Linked DNA regions of Homo sapiens: region 2 is linked to region 1. The links come from fine-mapping of genetic effects on gene expression. A gene starts in region 1. The other region holds a variant in brackets. All regions are shown on one strand. Distances are between the middles of the regions. Region 1 holds the start of ISLR2 (immunoglobulin superfamily containing leucine rich repeat 2). Region 2 overlaps ISLR (immunoglobulin superfamily containing leucine rich repeat).

Region 1 (8,320 bases):
AGTTGGTACCCGGCCGCAGGCCGCGGAACCAGTAGGCGTTGACGCCTTCCTCTACGCGGGACCACTGCACTGCCGCGCCGCCCCCCGCTGGACACAGATAGAGTAGGCGCAGGGGTCGCCGCCCGGGTCGCGGGGCTCCGCCAGCCCCGCCGGGCCCAGGGCCCCAGCGCGCAGCCAGCGGAGTCAGCTGCACCCGCGCCTCGCGCTCCGCCACATCCAGCGCGATGACGCCCAGCTCGAAGACGTGCGGCTTGAGCTCTGCGCTCTGGTTGAACGCGTGGTTAGAAACGTACCGAGAGGGGTCCCCGTTGCCACAGCGCTGCTCCTCCGCCGGGTCCGCGAGGATCTGGTCTTCGGCCTCCTCTCCCTCACTTGTGTCCTCCTCCGGCTCCGTCTCGGTCTCCCCGAGAATGCTGACCTTGGCCAGGCCTTGGCCTTTGATTTTGCCCTCGGGTTTGGAAGGCAGGACGCTGTTGCCCCGGCCCTTGGCTGTGGACTTGCGCTCAGAGGTCGGGGCCTGTCCGTCGGGTTCTCCCCCGGCGCCAGGCGCGTGTTTTGGGGGCCCGGTTGCTGCCACCGCCACGCGTATTGACGTAGAGTTGGCGCCCAGCTCATTGTGTGCACGGCAAGTGTAGACGCCCGCCTCCTTGGCACTCAGGAGGGGCACCAACAGGGAGCCATTTGCGAGGGCCAGGAAGCGCGGTGTGGCTGGGGGCGCCGGCCAAGCGGGTGCTGGAGTCGGCGTTTGGGCTTGGGTCTGCGTCAGCAAATCCCCATCTCCTTCTCCCTCTCCTTCCTCCGCCCCAACCCCGTCGTCCTCCCCGCTCAGAACCGGTGGCTCTAAGACTACGGTGCCACCGGGGATCTGAAGTTGCCATTGCAGGCGAGGCGTAGGGTGGCCGTCGGCGATGCAGTGTAACACGAACGCCAGTCCTGCGCGCAGTGGGGTGCCGGGTGCTTCAAGCGGTGGCTCGGCACTCAGATGCACGCTGGGCGGTGCACAGGGCAGGGCGGGCAGGCGGTACACCGGCACCCCCTGCAGCGCGGGAGGCGAGGCACAAGCAATGGAGTCGGGCTCGGGTAAGGACACCCGGGTGCTCGCGGCCCAGGCCTGCAGCCACACAAGGCCGCAGCCGCAGTGGAAGGGATTGTGATAGAGTTGCAAGTGTGACAGCGCGCTAAGCGCGTCGAAGGTGCCAGGCGCCAGCGTACGCAGCCGGTTGTTGTTGATGCGCAGGGAACGCAGGTCGGGTAGCGCACCGAGTGCGTCCCGGGGCAGAGAGCCCAGGCGGTTGTGGTTCATTTTGAGCAGCTGCAGCGCGCTCAGGTTGCGCAGGTCGCTCCACGGAAAGCTGGATATGAAGTTGTGGCTCAGATCGAGGTTCTTGAGCTGACTCAGCACGGCCAGTGCGCCTGGCTCCACGGTGCGCACCTCATTGTGCGCCAGCCACAGCGACGTGACCTGTGTGACGTCGGCGAAGGCCCCGCGCCGCAGCACAGTGATCTTGTTCGCGGACAGACTAAGCGTCGTCACGTTGGCAGGCAGTCCTTCCGGCACCTCACGCAACTCTTTGTAAGCGCAGTCCGCGAACTGGTGAGCGTACTTGTCCACGCAGGCGCACGGCTCCGGGCATGATCCGGCCACTCCTAGAAGCGCCCAGACCAACCACAGGGCCCGAAGGGGGAACATCGCGGCTCCTGCAGATGGAAGCCAGGTGAAGAAGAAAGAAGGTGACTCACTGAACCCCAGCTTACCTCCCCTATCAAGCTGTGCCTCCGCAAGCCCGTTTAGCACTAGTTCCAGGGCTCCGGTAACCTCCTCTATGGCCAGGAGCCTCTCTGAAGTGAAGGTCAATAAAAATCTCGAGGTTCAACGGATGCTCCCTCCCAGGGCCCTAATTTCCTTTTCCAGCGGCCCGGTATATCGCCCTTTTTTCTCTTCCTACTCCTTCCTTCACGCTGGAGCTGGCCCCTCCGTGGGCTCCGCAGCTCGCCCATCTCCAGCGGGCTCCTCACGTACCCCTCTCTGTGTTTCTAAGCCTTCGTTTAACCTGGTGAAATGGATCCTACCCAAGAAGGACATTTTTGTCCGTGACTGGCTGTCCTCCCTGGAACCTTTGTCCCACGCACAGCACTCGCACACACGCCCATGCAGGCACACAACAATACAAACAGACGCGGGGCTTCATAATCAAACCGCCAACTTCTGCAGGGGTTTAGAGGACCTGATGCTCAATTAGGAGGCTCACAACACATTTCCTAAACTCACAAACACATATGCACCCAGACATGGACACAATAGACCCTGCAGACCTCATTGTTCTCTTAACCAGCATTTGTACGTGTTTTCCACCACGGTACAAAGCGCTTTCCTGTCCATTGTGACAATTGACAGACACAAGGACACAAGTCCTCACACGAACCGACCCACCCACAAGAACACAGGCATGTGCCTGTGTGTGCATACAGCCCTCCACTGTGACCGAAACCCAGCAGAGAAGCAATAGGAGGACCTGCACTGCACGACTTGAGATGTGGGATCTGGGGAAGCCCATCCCCATGCCCTACTGCATCTAAGGCCAAAGTCACCTGCCCGGGGCTGCAGCTCCTGTGAGGGGAGAAGAAGGGCTGCTCTGCCAACCTTCCTTACGGGGAAGGAGGTTCTCCCCCATGTTTGGACCAGGTGTGTTGGGAAAGCGGTCACTAGAGCTTCCTCTCAGGTCCCTCAGGCGGCTCCCATTGGGCAGAGGCGTCCTCAGCCAACAGGTCATGGGGCTGCCACTAGCTAATGAAGCTGGAGAAGATGAAAGATTCTGCGCCTTTCTCCACAGCTCTGCGGTGCCTAAGGACCCCCTCCCCATAACACCTTAAGCCCGGTCACACAAACGAACTTGCACAGACTCCCTGCCCCCATTTGGAGCGCCTGTCAGGTTTGGCAGAGCCCCTCCCACAACTTGTCTTTGGGAACCTGCTCCTTCACTCTGCCTTTGCTCTTCTGGGAGGGTCCCTTCCCTCCCTTCCCGGTTCCTGCCAGACAGCACCCCCACCAGCCCCGCACCCCATCAGGTGCCCTAGGCTGGACCTAACCCCACCTGGGTCAAGGTTGTGGGGTGGCCCCCATTGCTTACCCAATATTCGCCGACTCTCAGTAAATGTCCTGGGGCTGAAACCCCTTCTCCAGACCCGGCGTGGCAGAGCAGGGAAGATAGCCCAAGCAAGATACACGCATGTGTTGTGGCTGTGGGGAAAACGGGGGGCGGGGGGCAAAGAAAGGGACAGGTAAGTTTGGGGACTTGGTGGCCCCAAAGTACCACTTCAATTTTTCCTTTTGCGTCCGTTTCCCCCACCTCTCTGGCTGCAGGTTGGAGAAAGTCCTTGCGCACTCCCGGGCCTGGCGGGGACGCGCATAGCCTCTCCCGCCTCCTGCTTGGTCTACTTTTGTTAAAGCCACGGAGACCCTCCCCAAGGCCAAGACACGTCGGTCATAAGGGGCATCCCACGCCCACTGTCCTGGCTGGGCTCTTCGCAGCCTACTGCACCCCCATAACCCACGTACCCCCACATTTACACAGCCGCTGGCATTGTTACTGTCCCTGATCACACCACCTCCCCCACCCCACGTTCAAACACATTCGCGCACACAGTCCCTCACACCCTCCCCATAGCCGACCTTCACAGTTTACAATCATCCATGGTCAGGTAATAATCGCATCAATGTGTTCAGCCCCTGCTACATTCACACGCATTTTCACGGGCACACCTGCACCCGGGACACTTACCGTTCTCCTCTCGCACACGCATACACACATTCACGCGAACTCACCCTCACGCGCCTGTCCCGCCAGCGCCCGCGAGCTTCGCTGCTAATTGAATGCAAGCCGCTTTTACGCCCTGCAACACGTGAGACAAACCATCTTTGAGGAATTTGGGGGAAGGAAAGGCGCGCGGCTGAAGTGGGGGGGGAAGGCGTGTCTTTGCCTTTAAACTCTTTTTGCAAATGCAGGCGGTGGCACCGACAGACTTCGAGCGGGACCCGCTGAGCTGCGCGCAGCCGAGCTCGCGCGGACCCTTCCCTCCCGCACCCCCCGCTGCTAGCCGCCTCCTCCCCGAAGCCACGTTCAACATGATGCATAATTGATAGTGTTAGCAGAGCGCCGCACCCTCCCTACCATTTTTGCCTGGATCTGGGCTGATATAAGCCCTAGTCTCCCCCGCCCCGCCGCCCCAACCCCCCCGCCCCGCCTGCTAGTCTAACCCGACACCAGAACGCACAGCCCTGCAGGGCGTGCTGGGAAGGGACACCCCCCTCCCCAGCCCACCGCAGCCCTGCCCAGCCTCTTAAGCCGGAACTCTTTACTTCTGGTCTTTTGTGGCTAAACCAGCGCTTGAAGCCCACTGCCCGACGCGTTGGCCTGCGCGCACCGCGGGACAGGTGGAGCAGGGGGAAGCTCTCTCGAGCGCACCCAAGCACCTCACTCCAGGTCTTGCCTGCTCCAGGAGAACGGGGCACGGAAGCTGCAGCAGACAGTAGCACAGACAAGGATGGTGGCAAAACGTCCGCTACTCTTGAGCACGGTGGGCTGGGGACTTCAGGCCCGAGCATTTCTCCCATATCTGCCCCCCATATCTTCACAGCCTCTCAAGCAGACACACGGTCAACCCCACACGCACTATCCCCCAAGCCGCGGTGGCCCCTCACCGCCCCGCCGTCTCACACCCTCACACAACAGCCGGCTTCGGCAGACTCGCTGTTCCCGACTGTCGCTCCCTAGCTCTGATGAAACCCCGACATTTCTTTCAGCGACGAGGAGGCGGAGGCGCGGCGATGTCGAGGCATTTGGCTAAAACCCGGTTTCCGCCCCCCTGCGCTGCCCACGTTAGCCCTGGAGACAGCTACCGGCCATAACCAGGAAAGGGGTTCAGGCTCCGGGAGACACGCAGAATCCCCACCCATTCTGTAGCCACTGAGCTCTCTGGGAGCACCAAGCCCCACAGCCATCACCCCGGGCCATGGGGGTCTCTCGATGGCGAGGGTTTGGGGCTTCCGTGGAGATCAATACCCCGATTTGAGTGTTGAGCATCTTAATGAGCTAGGGGAGGGGGTGGGGAAGAGAGACAGGCTAAGAGCGCAGCGTCTAAAGAGACCACCCGGCCCGGGGTTCCGAGGCTGCTTTGTAAATTAAATATGAACAGACTGGTGCGCTCACACTCCAAGCGTCCCTCCCTCTCCCCTACTCCTGCCGTCGCTACGGGCGGCCCAGCGGGCTGAGACCATCGCATCTTGCTCAGCCCCAGTTCAGAACACAGAACTTCACACCGCCTGCTCGGGCCTGGAGTCCCCCCCCGCCGACCCATGGGGAGGGCGCAAGGCGCCTTTCAGGGAAGGTGTCTTCGAAAATGGTCGAGGGGTGAGAGCACTGTGACCCGTCCCTGCCGGGGATCCTGTGGTGGGACAGCCAGGATTGGGTCCCTAGCCCGGGGTGAGTCCCTGAGGTTTCTAGGCCTTGTGGGGTCGGGAGAAGGAGGCAGACGGCGGGGCCAGCACACCCTTCTTTGTCTGCCGAACAAGGTGGGGGTGGGGGCGGGGAGCGGCGTCTTGGGCAGTTGTCCGGGTGTTGGGAACCCTGAGGGGGCGGTCTTGGGAGCCTGTGCCTGGGAAGGATATTTGGAGGCAGGGGCCCAGCAGCGGGAGCTGAGTCCGGTCCGGCATGGCGTGTCCAGGGGACTTTTCGGGACTGAGTGAGGGGCGCCAGGCGGGGAGGCTCAAGGCCCTCCGCCGGTTTTTACCTATTTTCTTTCTTTCTTTTTTGCCTTCCGCAGGGAGGCAGAATCTGGGTAATGGAAGGGAGAATGGGCTCGCTATCTGCCCAGAGCTTCCCTGGACTGCAGGAACCCGTCCTATAAGCAACCCCGAAACTTCGGGGCCCGAGGACCAGGGAAGACCCCCTTTCCTTGCTGTCTTGACAGGGTTGCAGAAGCCAAGGAGTTCGGCAGGGAGACGGGGCTCCTGGGGTGGTTAAGGACGCGGTGACCACCCCTGGGCGGGAGCTGACTCCCGCGGGCCCGGAGGCTCTAGCTCACTCTACAGCAAATGCTTTTGTTCCCGGAGGCTGCCCTGGGGGAAAGACGCCCCTTACCCCTGCCTTCGACCCTGGAGAGCCCAGTGCCCGCCCGGGCAGGGCTGGAGCCCGAGTCGCCCCAGGCAGAGTCCGCCGAGGCCTGGGGTGGGAGCCGCGACTTCTGGATCTGCCTCCGAGCTCAGCTAGAAGACTGCGCGCACCTCGTCCGGCGCCGTCCGGCGCGCAGAAGCGGGTCTAATGTTTATAACGTTAATAATGACAGTTAGGGAGGGCTGTGGAGCCGGGAACCAAGACCTCATCCCGCCGCCGCCCACGTCTTTGATCATTAAAGAAACAGACAACTAATCAGGTGTGTGGAAGTAGGGGTGGGGGAGGGGAGGGTGACAAGGTTCCAAGCCGCTAGCGCAGAGGGTCCCAGATTCAGAATCTGCCGAATCCAGACTAAGGCTTCTAACCAGGCTGGAGCCGACCCCAGACAGACCCAGGAATGGAGAGCTGGAGCCCCTGGCCGCTTTCTGCGGATCGACCCTTAACTTCAACGTCGCGAACCCGGAGCGTCGGGAGGGTGGGGAGGGTTGAAACCGGTTGGATCTGGGGACTTGCTCCAGCGACTCCATCCGCGCTGTTCTAGGGCCCAAGCCTGGTCCGCGCGCGCCCCCTGCTGGAAGCCGCTTGCCGGGCGCAGAGGCGGGTCAACGGCAGAGGGTGCTGGCTGGGCGAGGAAGATGTGGCTGGAACCCTGCACCAAGGCGACCGCTGCTCACGGCTCTGCAGTCCCGCGGCGCGATACGCCAGTGGGGCGCGCTTAACCAAAGTCCCGAGGCTTTACTTCCCGTGCCCACCCAGTCTATGTCCCAGGTATCAGCAACCTCTGGTCCACTACACAACACAGGCGCTGTCCCTACTTCGCGCTGCGTAGTTTCCAGTGCCCAGGGCGTCTCCTAATTCTTGAGCGACTAGTCCCTGGCACAAAACCTTCCTATACACCTCTCCCACTCTCCCTTCTCTCTGAGTCTTATGACTTTGTCAGGGGCCTATTAAAATAAATGTCTGAGATCTGGAAAAAAAAATCTGTTGGCGCTAACAGGGGCAAAGAAAACTGCAAAATTGGAAGTAATCGATGTTTGATTGAATGTTTAAGACATGCGACATTGTGCAAACGATTCTGTTGCAACTGCACTCAGAGTTGTACTTGCCCTTGTATTTTAATGTGGCACGCGGAGGATTTAATGGACTTGCCTAAAGATGTGGGAAGGGCCTCTGAGAATAAGAAAGCCGGGGCCCAGATGGGCATCAAACATCCCCAGCATAGCAGCCGGTTAAGGCTGCGGAGACCTTCCCCAAGGCTGCCCTCCAGTCAGAAGCCCCTGAACACTCACTACTTCCCATCTTTCAGCTTCTGCGCGCACAGACACACACACACACACACACACACACACACACACACACACACACACACACACACACAAATGTTCTCTCCAGCCCCACACCCTCAAGAAGCTGCTTTCCTTTTCTAATTTCCAGTCGAAAGATCACTCCTCAGGGAAGCCAGGCCCTGTTTATACTCCCTCCTCCGGCCTTTCCTTGTACAGGTTCTATGTAGTCGTCAGGCGGGCAGGTCCTAGCGTCAGACTCCATTATGTACTGACTGTGTGTCCTTAGCCAAGCTATTTAACCTCTCTGTGCCTCAAGAAAAAAAGGCATAAATAAGAGTACTGACCAGGCGCGGTGGCTCACACCTGTAATAATCCCAGCACTTTGGGAGGCCCAGGCGGGCGGATCACAAGGTCAGGAGTTCGAGACCAGCCTGACCAACATGGTGAAACCTCGTCTCTGCTAAAAATACAAAAATTAGCCGGGCGTGGTGGTGCATGCCTGTAATCCCAGCTACTCAGGAGGCTGAGGCAGGAGAATCTCGGGAGGCAGAGGTTGCAGTGAGCCGAGATAGTGCCACTGCATTCCGGCCTGGGCGACAGAGCGAGACTCTGTCTCAAAAAAAAAAAAAAAAAAAAAAAAATACCTATGCTTTTCGGTCACCTTGAGGATTAAATGAATCAATGTACGCAAAGCACTTAGTACCTGACACTTAGTGCTCAGTACTTGAGATACGTTTTTTATATAATAGCTGAATTAGCCATTATTATTGCCTTGCAGAGTGGGACACAAGTTTGATAAAAGGTTCTGCTGCACACACCCCTACAGGCTTGTGTCCTGCCTCCTCCACAGGGGAGCACCTTGGC
Region 2 (8,320 bases), 50 kb before region 1:
GTGGAAGGGGCAGCCCGAGCACTTACCCATGTCAGAGAACTGGCCCATGTCTCCTGCGCACTTGCCAGGTCTCAGAGCTCTTCCCAGGGATCTTTTTCCACAGGTCACCCCTCCTTCTTCTGGCATTCAAGGCTCCTCAGCCTGTGCTTGCCTTGCCTCTTTACCTGTTGGCTGTGCTGTGTGTCACTTCCATTCTCACTGTTGTTTCTCACTTTTCTGACTTGGCTCAGGTTGAGCCTTCTGCCTCGTTTTGTATTCCTCGTTCACTGTTTAAGACTACCCAGATATCACCTCTTCCAGATATCTTGGGTTAGTGGCCTCCTCCTGGCTCCCACAGTTCTGGGCTTCCCTGCTGATGGCTGTGAGTTGAAATTCTATTGGGAGTTTGGCCAGTTGCTGGCCCAGAGGAGGATTTAGGAAGAGTGTGTTGCTCCCTGAGGTCTCTGCCTCCCTGGCTCCCACCCCAGGACCAACCTTCGAGCTCTGCACCGAGGAGCTGCCCTGGACTTGAGTCCCTTGCATCGGAGTCCCCATCCCTCCCGCCAAGCCATATTCTGTTGGATGAGCTTCAGTGCCTACCAGACAGCCTTTATCTGCCTTGGTGAGCCTCCCTTGCCCGCCACACCCAGCCTTGGCCTGGGCCTCCCCTCAGACACTGGCCTCAGTTGGGGAGAAGAGTGCTCAGCAAGTACTGCCCTCAGAGTTTGTCTGGGAATGCTCTGGGGCAGCAGCAAGAAGGAGGGACCCCCCTGCCTTCCCTGCCCTTAAGAAGCTTATTCAGGATGGGGGTACAGGAGCCCTCGGGAAATTGAGTGTGTACCCTCCACATGGAGATGAACCCTGGGTGCCACCAAGTATTCACATGGGGGTGGACCCAGGTCTGGAGGTGTCAAATTCAAAATGGTACATTCCTGGCTGGGCTCAGTGGCTCACACCTGTAATCCCAGCACTTTGGGAGGCTGAGGCAGGTGGATCACGAAGTCAGGAGATGAAGACCAGCCTGGCCAACATGGTGAGACCCCGTCTCTACTAAAAATACAAAAATTAGCCGGGTATGGTGGTGTGCACCTGCAGTTCCAGCTATTCGGGAGGATGAGGCAGGAGAATCGCTTGAACCCAGGAGGTGGAGGTTGCAGTGAGCCGAGATTGCACCACTGCGCTCCAGCTTAAGAAAGGGCTGTGTCACATTTGGCTACCTACAAAGGTAATGAGATCCCTGTCACTGGGGGTATGCAAGCAGAGTTCCATGGATATTGTTGCAGTCTGCAAAGGGGGTCCTGCCCTGAGAGAGTTGGACCAGATAACCTTCCAGGACCCCTACCAGCCCCAAGTTTCTGACTCTCCCCTTGGGTACTGCAGTGAGAAAAGCACTCTGAATGGTGAGGGGCTGTGGCCTGGGTTGCACATCCAAGGGCCTTGTATCTCTCCCTCCAGTTCCTTCCATTCTCACCTCCTTGCGGGAGGAGAAGGATGGTAAAGGAGTAGATGAATTACTAGGACAAAAGTCATAGCGTCTCTTCTTGGTAGCCCTTATGCCTCCAGGCCCTTTTGTAGACATCATTCTCTAATCAGTTGGCCAGATTATTTCAATAGACAGTCCTTGGGCACCTACCGTATGCCAGGCTCTGGCTTGAAGGAATGCAAACATCAGTTTAATATGTAGCCTTATCCCCCAGTAACTCAAACTCAGGAGAAACTGGAGGGAAATAACATTTGCAAAGTATTTTGTGATTTTAAGAGTTTCCACAGACATTATCTCATTGGATCCTTACAACAGCCTCTGAGGTAGGGACTATTATCCCCATTTTACAGAGGAAGAAACTGAGGCTCAATGAAGTAAAGTGATTTGTTCAAGGCAGCATAGCTAGGCAGTGGCAGAGCAGAGATCTAAAACCAGGCCTGCCCAATCCCAAAGCCCTTGGTTCTGGGGGCAGCGGGGATGGCCAGTTTTCATGGAACCTGTTTTCTGTCCCCCTGCCACTCCCGCCCCTGGCAGGGCTCCTGGTGCAGCAGATCATCTTCTTCCTGGGAACCACGGCCCTGGCCTTCCTGGTGCTCATGCCTGTGCTCCATGGCAGGAACCTCCTGCTCTTCCGTTCCCTGGAGTCCTCGTGGTGAGTGAAACAAGACATGGAGGGCTCAGGGACTCCTTAGAGGTCCGCTAACAGCGACCACCTCCCCACCCCACTGGCAGGCCCTTCTGGCTGACTTTGGCCCTGGCTGTGATCCTGCAGAACATGGCAGCCCATTGGGTCTTCCTGGAGACTCATGATGGACACCCACAGCTGACCAACCGGTGAGGTGGCATCTGGGCTTGTGGCTCCCTCAGGCCCTCGCCTCTTCTTCGGTGTCTCTCTCTTTTTGTGTCCTCCCTCCACTGCCATCTATCCCTTCTCTCTATCAAGGAACCCAGATGATAGTAGAAAGAGCTTGCCTTACCCATAGAGAAAAGGGACAATGGCTCAGCCCACTCCAAAGTACCTCTCTACATACCCGGCATGGGGCTGGAAGTACCCCCGTGAACCTTTCTTGCTTTGGGAATCGGTACTGCTCTCCCCTGGATCCTCTGTTTCCTTAAAACCATGCCCCTCCCCACTTTGTAGCAAGGGAGTTCCCTGTCAGATGACAAGTCTGTGGGAGAACCTTGGCTCCCAGGGGAACTTGGAATTAGCAGACAGGGGACCCAGAAAAGGGAGGTGGGAGGCATCAGGGTCATAGAAAGACTCAGATGGACCTAGAGTTAAAGCCCAGCTCTGCCACTGAATAGCTGACAGCCTTGGCTAAGTCTCCCAATCTCTCTGGGCCTCAGTTTCCCATCTCCCAGCATGGTGGGTTGAAAGAGAGAAGGCCTTGCCCAGGGTGGGGTGCACAGAAGACATAGCAATAAATGGTAGGCACTCAGTAAATACACAGCAGTTCTGGGCATCCAGGTCTGACACTGACCCTGGGGAGGGAGCTCTGGGGAACGGCCTGCCTCAGCTTTCTTCTCCCATCCTAGGCGAGTGCTCTATGCAGCCACCTTTCTTCTCTTCCCCCTCAATGTGCTGGTGGGTGCCATGGTGGCCACCTGGCGAGTGCTCCTCTCTGCCCTCTACAACGCCATCCACCTTGGCCAGATGGACCTCAGCCTGCTGCCACCGAGAGCCGCCACTCTCGACCCCGGTAAGGTCACTGGGCGGGGCTGGAGGATTGCTCAGGCTACCCAAGCAGTGAGGAAGGCATCTGCCCTGCCCCAGGGCCGTGCCAGCTGATCAGTTCACACCGATGCCTGTAGCTGCATGTGCCACCTGTGTGCCCCTGCGCTGTGCCTCCTGTGGCCCTGCAGCACGTGCAGTGGATGTGGGGTGTTCTAGCAGGTCCACACGTGCCCATGCAGCCAATGTGCCACGTGCTTGGTGTGTCGACATGCTTGGATGCAGGGAGTGCACGTGCACTCCCTGTGTGTGTGTTAGGGGATGTCTGGATGCCTCCAGTGTGGCCCCTGCTCCCCCAGCATTGCCATCCGCCACCCCACCCCAGGCTACTACACGTACCGAAACTTCTTGAAGATTGAAGTCAGCCAGTCGCATCCAGCCATGACAGCCTTCTGCTCCCTGCTCCTGCAAGCGCAGAGCCTCCTACCCAGGACCATGGCAGCCCCCCAGGACAGCCTCAGACCAGGGGAGGAAGACGAAGGTGCGCCCTCCCACTGGGAATGGGGGAATAGAGCCTACCCAGCTTCTTCTAGGAAGGATGTGTGCCCCTCCCCAGCACACAGAGTGAGCGCCAGGAAAATTCTCACTTCCTCTCTTCCTTGGCTGCCTTTGGTCACCCCTCCTGGTCTGATCTCAGGGTGATTTTTTCCATGATATGAACACACACATACACACACCATATGTGTGCACACAGAGAGAATGAAACAGCTGCCTTCCTAAGGGGCTCCGTCACTGCCCCCGCTTCTCCCTTGGGGCAGGGAGTATGACTCCTCCTTTCCTTCTGCCCAGAAGTGTGTGTAGGGAGGGGACACTAAGCCAGCTCCAGACCCTTGTCCCACCCAGCTTCCAGTCCATCCACAGACCTCACCCCCCACTTCCATGTGCTG[C/T]CTGCAGGGGACATCCTAAGCCTCACGACCTGCACACGCCTGGGATTTTCAGGCTCTCTGATCAGGTCTGAGGGCCAGGGAGGGTTGGCTGGGTGTTTGCTGAGTGACTCACAGAAAGTCCGTCTCTCTCAGGGATGCAGCTGCTACAGACAAAGGACTCCATGGCCAAGGGAGCTAGGCCCGGGGCCAGCCGCGGCAGGGCTCGCTGGGGTCTGGCCTACACGCTGCTGCACAACCCAACCCTGCAGGTCTTCCGCAAGACGGCCCTGTTGGGTGCCAATGGTGCCCAGCCCTGAGGGCAGGGAAGGTCAACCCACCTGCCCATCTGTGCTGAGGCATGTTCCTGCCTACCATCCTCCTCCCTCCCCGGCTCTCCTCCCAGCATCACACCAGCCATGCAGCCAGCAGGTCCTCCGGATCACTGTGGTTGGGTGGAGGTCTGTCTGCACTGGGAGCCTCAGGAGGGCTCTGCTCCACCCACTTGGCTATGGGAGAGCCAGCAGGGGTTCTGGAGAAAGAAACTGGTGGGTTAGGGCCTTGGTCCAGGAGCCAGTTGAGCCAGGGCAGCCACATCCAGGCGTCTCCCTACCCTGGCTCTGCCATCAGCCTTGAAGGGCCTCGATGAAGCCTTCTCTGGAACCACTCCAGCCCAGCTCCACCTCAGCCTTGGCCTTCACGCTGTGGAAGCAGCCAAGGCACTTCCTCACCCCCTCAGCGCCACGGACCTCTCTGGGGAGTGGCCGGAAAGCTCCCGGGCCTCTGGCCTGCAGGGCAGCCCAAGTCATGACTCAGACCAGGTCCCACACTGAGCTGCCCACACTCGAGAGCCAGATATTTTTGTAGTTTTTATGCCTTTGGCTATTATGAAAGAGGTTAGTGTGTTCCCTGCAATAAACTTGTTCCTGAGAAACTGTCCTCATAGCGGGAGGGGTATGCAGGGAAAACCCCGCCTACACTGTCAGGAACACTGTGCATTGATGGGGATGGGGCTTGGGGTGTTCTGGTCACATGCTGGGCCAGACACTGGGTGGAAGGCAGAACCCATAGCTGCATCCTTTTGGGTGGCAAAGAGACTGGGGACCCTATGATGCCACCCCTGAGCCATGTGAATGCTGGCTTTGGAAGTGGGACTTATTCTGGGTCTTGAAGAAGGGGCAGGATCTGGGGAGGAGAAGCGACTTCAGGAATGCTGGGGAAGCAGTGTGACTCCAGGTGTGGAGGTAGGAAGGGGCGTGTCACATGGGGGGACATAGCGTAGGCTGTCCTGATGGGAGGAGAATGAGAATACGGAGGGGAAAGGAGGGTGGAGACAGACTGGGGTCTTTTCCCTACTGGGGGCTTGGTGGAGGTGGAGGGCGGGGTATATGAATAAAGAACATGCCCTGGGTCCACTGAGGGGCTGGGGGCTACAGAGGGTAGGAAGATGTGGCCACCCTACAGATCTAGGTCAGCAGGGCCTTGAGAAATGCCTGCACAGTTAGTGGAGATCAACAGTCCCCTGCCCCAAGCTCAGGTTCCTGCTACAGCCTCAAATACCTGTAAAGCCAGGGGTGGGGTCAGGGACCTGAAACCCACTTTCAAGGCTGCCCCGAGGAGGCCAAAGAGGGCACACTGTGATCCCACTGCAGCCCGTTGAAAAAGGCTTCCTGACCTTGTTTCAGCAACTAACAGGGTCTCAGGGGAGGAGAATCCAGGTTCCCAGAGAAAGGGGGCCTGTTCACATTGGGGATGGGGGAACATCCAGGAAGGCTTTCTGGAGGTGGTGATGCCAGAGCCCACTCTCAAAGACTGACTTAGCCAAATGAAGAACAGGGAAAGGGTGCCTGGGCGGAGGGAACAGTATAAGCAAAGGTGCAGAGGATGGCACACCATGGAACATTAAGGGAACAATTAAATAGCTGTTCCAAGAAGAGGAAGGAAGGGTGCGCTTGTTGGAGGAGCAGGTCAGAGAGGCTCTAAGTGGGGAATTCAGGCTTTACCTGGAGGGCAGTGGGGACCACGGAAGACCTTAAAGCAGGGGAGCAGCTAGTCCACTCAAGGCACAGCCATTCCCTGTGTTAGGTCTTAGGTCCATGTCCTACTCCAAGAAGCCAAGCCACTCAGCTAGGAATGGAGCCAGGGATGTCCAAGTCAGGCTGGGAATATCAAGCCTTAGGCAATCAGAGTCTATTGGACCATGAAGTAGCACCTAGTCCTACCATGTCATTTGGTTTTTGAGGCAACTGAAGCCCAGACGTGGGCAATGACTTACCCAAGGTGGCCTAGCGCATGGAATTTGGCTCCATCCTGCTGTTTTCCACCAGACGTGAGTCATTTTTTTCAACTTTTATTTTAGATTAGGAGTCATTCTTGATACATGCTGCTGGTGACATCAGCTCAGCAGGAGCTGCAAGTTGATGAGGGGAGAGTGGGCAGGGGGAGGTGCTGTATGTGGACCTGGAGGGAGGGAATGGGGCTGGCCAGCAGCCAAGGCTCACAGCTGCTACCCCAGACTCCTTAGCATCCTGCCTCCACTTTGCTGAGCTCAGCAGTTCTGGGAGCTCTGGAGAAAGGCCACAGAGCCTCTCCCCCAGGCCATTGTCTCTGCATGCAGCATCCTCGATCTTGAAAGGGATGGGATAGAGGCAGTAGGAAGACATATATCCTACCTGGCACAGATAGGAGGTTGTGCAGAGTCTCCAGGTTAGGACCTCATCCTTATGCTCCTCATCTGGAGAGGCTGAAGGTTGCTGTACACACACACACACACATGCACTGGAGAGGCTGAAGGTTGCTGTACACACACACACACGCACCGCTCAGGTTGCTGTACACACACACACACACACACACACACACACACACACACGGCCCAGGCCAGTTACTGATCCACTTGCTCTGTGGGGAAAGATTCCTACAGGGAATCTGCAGTCCTCATTTGGACTTTCCTCTTGGAATACCATTTCTTCTTTGGGAGAAAGATAAGTACGATTTGTTTCCCCCCTGGTTTCTCCCTCAAATATGTAAATATGTTCTCTTATTCCCAGTCTCTCTGGGGCTTTCTCCTCCTCTGTCCTGTGTCCCCTTCTCCTCATCTGTCTCCTCCATCTTGCCCCACCTGTCCCCTCTTTCCTCTTCATTCCTAACATCTCTTCCAGGAGCAGGACAGGGAAGAGGAGCTACCACCCAGGCACTTCCATTTCCTTGCGCCTTTCCAAAATGCCTCTCTTGAAGCCACTGCTGACATCAGGCGCTGCTCAGGGTCGCCAGCCACCCCAGGCTCCTGCCCCCAGCTGTCCTGTGGGATGGTTTGGAGGAAGGGAACATCTGCAGCTCAGCTCACCGCAAGGCCCAGCCCCTGACACAGCATCGGGCCAGCACTCCTGTGCCTCCACAGTCTGTTGGAGTCTCAGAGGCCCCTGCCACTGTGGGCAGGCAGGCTGGCTGCCCTGACTCTTCAGCTCCTGATCCTATCTCCCAGCAGAGGCTCCTAGATCCAGACAAAATTCCAGGCAGACACGGAGGGGCATCAGAAATGCTGTTTATTTCTCTGCTGCTCCCAAGCTGGCTGGCCTTTGCAGAGGAGCAGACAACAGATGCATAGTTGGGGAGAAAGGGAGGACAGGTTCCAGGATAGAGGTTGCAGGCTGAGGGAGGAAGGGTAAGAGGAAGGAAGGCCATCCTGGATCCCCACATTTCAGTCTCAGATGAGGACAAAGGGACTCCCAAGCCCCCAAATCATCAGAAAACAGCAAGGAGCAGGAGGAGCTTGAGCAGGCCCCAGGGAGCCTCAGAGCCATACCAGCCACTGTCTACTTCCCATCCTCCTCTCCCATTCCCTGTCTGCTTCAGACCACCTCCCAGCTAAGCCCCAGCTCCATTCCCCCAATCCTGGCCCTTGCCAGCTTGACAGTCACAGTGCCTGGAATTCCACCACTGAGGCTTCTCCCAGTTGGATTAGGACGTCGCCCCGTTAGCATGCTGCCCCTGAGAGGAGAGCACAGGCAATGCTGTTAGCAGCAATGAGCACCGCAGACAGTGAGTTAGGGGATCAAATTCTATCCTAGTCACTAGTTTGGAGCAGGTCTAGAAGTTGGGGATAGCAGGTGCTCTAGAAGAGATTAGAAGGAGAGGTAGGAAAATGTGAAGTCACCCATGCAGGCCTCAGGAGTTGCCAACCCCAGACCCCTGCAGCACTTAAAGGGGCATTGGTAGGGGCAAGGGGAGGAGTTAGGGAAGCCCTGGGTGGGGCTAGAAGGA

What was found. PIP is the estimated chance that this variant, and not a neighbour inherited with it, causes the effect.
Region 2: its variant is fine-mapped to the expression of ISLR2 in left ventricle (GTEx, PIP 0.90).

What each region holds. Positions count from the first base shown.
Region 1 is chr15:74,126,125-74,134,444 of GRCh38, reverse strand. ISLR2 (immunoglobulin superfamily containing leucine rich repeat 2) reads right to left here and starts at 3,859. Exons shown (of 3, transcript NM_020851.3): 1 at 3,824-3,859; 2 at 3,129-3,238; 3 at 1-1,698. The coding sequence starts at 1,690. LOC283731 (a long non-coding RNA gene) reads left to right here and starts at 5,167. Exons shown (of 3, transcript NR_152622.1): 1 at 5,167-5,480; 2 at 5,821-6,429; 3 at 6,712-8,072. RefSeq lists a silencer at 3,043-3,242 and enhancers at 2,735-3,643, 3,644-4,553.
Region 2 is chr15:74,176,137-74,184,456 of GRCh38, reverse strand. It overlaps ISLR (immunoglobulin superfamily containing leucine rich repeat), which reads right to left. Exons shown (of 2, transcript NM_005545.4): 2 at 7,586-8,320. The coding sequence ends at 8,312. It overlaps STRA6 (signaling receptor and transporter of retinol STRA6), which reads left to right. Exons shown (of 19, transcript NM_022369.4): 14 at 468-601; 15 at 1,997-2,114; 16 at 2,195-2,296; 17 at 2,999-3,162; 18 at 3,520-3,675; 19 at 4,214-4,991. The coding sequence ends at 4,377. Among named protein-coding and RNA genes, the nearest start is that of ISLR, 6.6 kb to the right of the region's middle. RefSeq lists a silencer at 1-113 and enhancers at 1-280, 2,785-3,321, 5,336-5,505, 7,413-7,929. The variant C/T (reference allele first, on the strand shown) is at 4,082.